Regions from separate parts of the Homo sapiens genome. Here region 1 is linked to region 2. Evidence: fine-mapped expression QTL. Tissue or cell type: prefrontal cortex. Region 2 holds a variant in brackets; the other region holds the start of a gene. All regions are shown on one strand. Distances are between the middles of the regions.

Region 1 (2,759 bases), 79 kb after region 2:
AATTCTGAGACATACCGCAGCCTCCATACCCCTCCTCTCCCACTTGATTTTCAACAAACGTCCCATGGGCTCAACAGCTTCCAATCAACTTTTAAATATACCCCCACTTACATATGAGCAGATAAGGACCACCAGACATCCTAGGAAAGCCTCTAATGTGAAAGATAGAGCACAAAATCAACAGAAGAAAAAAAAAGGAAACTTGAGGGAAATAGATACTGCAAGGGAAGAAAAACTTTAAAAAAGGTATCATTAATATCAGAGAGTTGGATGATGATACTGGAATAATAAAACATCATTTTGGCAGCAATTCAGAGTCAATCAGAGGCAAACAAAACTGAAAACGTTTTAGGAAAAAGCTGACCAAGAAGACCTGAACTAAAGTAGCAGTAATGGCGATGAACATGACACTTAAAAAACGCAGGTTCTAGGCCCCTCACTAGAAAACTAGGGGATGAACCTCCGGGGATGGAGTCCAGGAATTTGGAATCTTCTAAAACATCACCACCGGCAATTCTGATGTAGCCAGCTGGGTGCTGGTCTCAAGACTGAGAACTAGAGGACATAGGGTCTAATCGGATGTAAGAGGTTAAGAAAGTGGGAAGGTTGATAACTGTCTGGCTGGGTGGATGATGGTGTCATCCCAACGTAGAAACATAGAAACATAGACAAGATACACTTTTGCCCACTTCCAACCTAAATACATAAATAAGGCTGTGTTAGTTTGAGTAGTCCATGGTACATCTTGGAAAAGTATAGTTGGCATGTGGAGATATTTTTTGCTTAGATTAGAAGCACAGTTTCTTGTCACCAACAACTACGGCTGCGAGAGCGTCCTATGCTTTTTTCTCACGTACTGTTTTGATGCAGAGCTGTCTTCGCAGTCCCTCCCCCGGCTAAAACCCCCCAAACAAAAAAATCCCGATTATTCTGCCACCAGACAGTAGCTTTAAAACACCTCTGTTATTGCCCTTGACGCTTATTGTAATAATTGACATGTCTCCAACTGTAACAATTCCCTTGGAAACAGAAAGTTCTATTCAGGCATATAGTTTACAAAACTCCACCTCGGACCTGCTTTAATTTCTTTACAGGTCCTACTAAATGCTCCTGTCAAATTCCTTAGTTATCGTTTCAATCTGCTTCCCAATTAAAATGTCAGCATCATGATGACAGGAACGTCGTTTGCAGGCGTCACTGCTGCAGCCATATCTCCAGCACGTTTCCAGAAAATGTCATTGGTTGAAAGCAATAACTCTCCTATTTCACAATGATTTCATCTCTCTTCACATCAACCCTAGGTGATGTTTTTATTCTCACCTTATGAACGAGAATACTGCGGCTCAAAATTCAAGAGTCTTGCCCAGAGTTTTTTGGCAAGTACGAAAGGGTTATGGCTCCAAACTGGTTAGCTCCGAAGTCCTTGCAAACCCTGTCCGAGACCATGCGCGACCCCAAGGAGCGCCTGAGCAGATAACCAAAAGTGAAAAAGCCTATAGACCTCTTCACTCAAGTTAGCGCCTCGGCTTCAGGAGAGGCAGCGCCAGCTCCACGCAGCCGGCCCGGGGTCGCTCGCACTGACGTCACGTAGCGACGCGGAAGATTTACGTATGGTGCCTCGCTCTGGGATAGCTTTACGGCTTCTGGGAGCTGCTGCTTCGCTGTGAGAAGTATCCGCGACGAGCTATCCGGGAAAGGGCCGAATGCGATCAAACCTAATCCGCGAGACTTGCTAAGTGAGTCGCGGCAGGGCGCGGTGTCCGGCGGGGGTCTGTGTGAAGGAGGCGAAGTGCCGCTAGGCCTGAGCCTGCTTCCACATACATTTGCTCAGCTTCAGGACCACTGCCTGACCTCGGATTTGATACATCGGGGTCTGGCGTGCTGGTGTGGTGCAGACTAACCCTGACCTGTGTGTACACTCCTGCGTCACTAGCCTCCGCCCCTCCATTCAAATGGAAATAAGTGTGCTCCGCGCTCAGCTACCCCCTAGAGTGGTTTCGAAGAGCAATGAAGAAATGTTTAGGAAGCTGTAAATTGCATTGTTACTCGTTGCATACCGTAAATTTAGAAGCCGGGGAATTGGGAAAATAAAGTTTCTAGATTATTTATCCATTTTTAAAACAGCCAGTGGCCTAGAGAGAGGCCCCATAGCAATTGAATTTGCTGACACTCTTAAGATCTTTGTTGACTAAATAGCAGCTTCTACAGTTGTAGCAAGTAAATTTATTCCTTTTACATGTAAAATCTGCTTACCAGAGTTTGCTTTTTTTTTTCCTTTTTTTTTTTTTTTTTTTTTTTGAGACGGAGTCTCGCTCTGTCGCCCAGGCCGGACTGCGGACTGCAGTGGCGCAATCTCGGCTCACTGCAAGCTCCGCTTCCCGGGTTGACGCCATTCTCCTGCCTCAGCCTCCCGAGTAGCTGGGACTACAGGCGCCCGCCACCGCGCCCGGCTAATTTTTTGTATTTTTAGTAGAGACGGGGTTTCACCTTGTTAGCCAGGATGGTCTCGATCTCCTGACCTCATGATCCACCCGCCTCGGCCTCCCAAAGTGCTGGGATTACAGGCGTGAGCCACCGCGCCCGGCCTTTTTTTCCTTTTTAAGGTCTCAAACATTTGGGCATTAATAAGTTTAGTATTCTCTACTGCAGAGAATGTTATTTGTGATTCAATGAATGAAAATGAAAACCTGAGACAAGAAGAATGGATTTTACCTTAAATGTCTGTAGCAACCATTGGGAAAATGGAAAGAAACATCTTA
Region 2 (2,719 bases):
TAGCACCAGCCTCTAAACTACGTGTCCCAAGCAGGTTCCTCCCCCTTTAGCGGCCAAAGAGAACAAGCTCCCTCAGCAATAGAGTCCTGATCACTGCGCTCAAGACGAAGAAGAAAAGGAGGCACTTTGGAATATTTGTGAAATAAAGCAGCAAAGGAGTCAAATAAGAAAACAGTTTGAAATGGACTCCGGGAGCTGCGGTCTCTTTAAAACCTTCCCTCGCTTCCCGCGGAGGGTAAAAAGAGAAGTACACGTGGCTGTAAGCAACCAGGGACCCCAGGCTGGCCTGGTGAAGCCGAGGAGTGAGACCTGCGTCTTCCGGGCGCTAGGGCCCGAGCCGGGCGGACAATAGACGGGGGGGTTTCGGGGGTCTCCCCTTCCCGTGCCTCCCGCGCGAGGTGGTCTCGCGCGCCGGAAACAGGCCGCATCCTCCAGCCGGCCTGGGCCCGCCCCAGTGCCCACCCCGACACTTACTCTTATTGACGGTCTTGAGAGCGCGCGTGAAGTCGCCGTTCTGGCCATACCGGTTCACTTCACTCCACAGCGCAGGTACTGACACCCCCCCGCTGCCGCCGCTCGCCATCTTGGAGGAGACGAGGGGCGGGGCGGGGAGACCTCTGCCCCGGAACAGGATCTCCGAGGCAGCCAAGAGGAGGAGGAAGTCGATGATTGCTAAGCGTCGCCGAGTTGGGAGTGTCTTCAGCCCTAAGGCAGCATCAGAGATCATAATCTTCTGCTCTCGTGGCAAGAAATTTGTGCGGATAGAGTTGATACACCTCACTTGAAGTTGGCCTGGAGAAAAGAGGCGTCGGACTCCTGGACGGGGTTGGGAAACGGTCACCAGTTTCGGCTCAAAGCAGCCTGTTTCCAGGAGACCGCCATGGTCGAGGCAGCGTCCTGGTCCCACGGTGCGGGGCCGGACGATCATTTATGGGATATAAATAAAAGGACTATGAGGTGGTAAATAAAAGACTACCAACTAGAAGCCATAGGGAGTCATTTGAAGGAGAAATAGGCACGGCTCATCTGTGGTTGAGGGAAAGGGATCTTGAAAGATGATTAGGAGAACTTGGGTTCTGGGGAAAGTGCGGGAAGACATTCTGGCAGAGAAGCAAACGTGAGGAAAGGTAAGAAGGCAAGAATCTCCCATTACAAAGGGTTTGGTGAAACCCTTTGCCTGTCCTTTTCGCTCCCTTCGGGAGCAGTCGGCAATAAGCTGGAAGGGTAATGGGGTGAAAATGCCCGTGGTCAGTTCCCTGGCTCTGCGACTCACTAGATGTCTGACAATAAACAAGTTACTTAGCTTCTGGGAGTCTGTTTTCCCGATTGTGAAATGGGGATACTATATTTGTTCTAGAGATATAAAATATTAGGGTTTGCTTGCGACCGTTAATATCAAGATGTGTTCAGATGTACGAAGGGAATGGATATCTGTTGGGTACACTTGATGTGAGTGATTTTTTTTTTTTTTT[G/AG]AGACGGGGATCTTGCCGTGTTGCCCAAGCTGGTCTGGAACTCCTGGGCTCAAGCAATCCTCCCACCACAGCCTCCCCAAGTGCTGGGATTACAGGCATGAGCCACCACACCAAGACGATGTGAGTGATTCACTTGATGTGAATGTTGTATTTCATTGAATGGCCTGCTCTTCAGACTCATATCTCGTCATGACCTTTACAACTTCTACTACTTCCTGTGTCCCTCAGGAACCTAGCTTTTTTTTTTTTTTTTTTTTTTTTTTTTTGAGACGTAGTCTAGCTCTGTGACCCAGGATGAACCTCACTGCAATCTCCACCTCCTGGGTTAAAGCGATTCTTTTGCCTCAGCCTCCCAAGTAGCATGAGCCACCACGCCCGGTTAATTTTTGAATTTTTAGTAGAGATGGGGTTTCACTGTGTTGGCCAAGCTGGTCTCAAACTCCTGACCTCAAGTGATCCGCCCTCTCTCAGCCTCCCAAAGTACAGGGATTACAGGCGTAAGCCACCGTGCCCGGCCTTGCTAACTACTTTTTGTCTTTCAGTCTTTCTGGTTATACGTTGAAAGTTACTTTGAGGAAACATTTGATCTTGCAGACTGGGCAGCCTTCTGGTTGCATCCTCTTAGAACAGGGGTCCCCAACCCTTGTACTGGTCTGCAGCCTGTTAGGAACCGGGCGGCACAGCAGTAGGTGATCGGTGGGCCAGTGAGCAGTACCGCCTGAGCTCCTGTCAGATCAGCTGTGATATTAGCTTCTCACAGCTCAAACCCTATTGTGAACTGGGAATGTGAAGGATCTAGGTTGCTCACTCCTTAAGAGAATCTAATGGGAAATGTAATGAGCTTGAATCATACTGAAACCAGCTGTCCAACTCCTGTGGAAAGATTGTCTTCCCTGAAACCGGTCCCTGGTGCCAAAAAGGTTGGGAGACTCCCTATAGGACTCCACTTCTGAGCACTGATAATTAAGGGTTATCTCACTCTGTATGGACTATAGTTCTGAGGCCAAGGAACCATATTTACCTTGCTCACTGCAGTATCCCTAGGATCTAGCATACTGCCTGGCACATAGTTGGCATTTTTTGTTTCACATTCCTTGCCTAATCTTGAGTTCCTTGAGGGCAGAAACTGCCCAGCTCCTGATATGGCATATGGTGCCCTGCCATATTTTTGTCTGGTCCTTCCAGTATATACAATGCAAAGAGCATGAAAGGTGGCTTGAACTCTAGGTGCTGGAGGGTGTAATTCT

What was found. PIP is the estimated chance that this variant, and not a neighbour inherited with it, causes the effect.
Region 1: it holds the start of AASDH, and the variant in region 2 is fine-mapped to the expression of AASDH in prefrontal cortex (CommonMind, PIP 0.94).

Annotation. Positions count from the first base shown.
Region 1 is chr4:56,386,339-56,389,097 of GRCh38, reverse strand. AASDH (aminoadipate-semialdehyde dehydrogenase) reads left to right here and starts at 1,607. Exons shown (of 15, transcript NM_181806.4): 1 at 1,607-1,736. RefSeq lists enhancers at 1,263-1,312, 1,175-1,681, 1,343-1,712, 1,682-2,189.
Region 2 is chr4:56,465,500-56,468,218 of GRCh38, reverse strand. SRP72 (signal recognition particle 72) reads right to left here and starts at 602. Exons shown (of 19, transcript NM_006947.4): 1 at 475-602. The coding sequence starts at 583. LOC124900706 (a long non-coding RNA gene) reads left to right here and starts at 661. Exons shown (of 2, transcript XR_007058126.1): 1 at 661-1,127. RefSeq lists an enhancer at 548-757. The variant G/AG (reference allele first, on the strand shown) is at 1,473.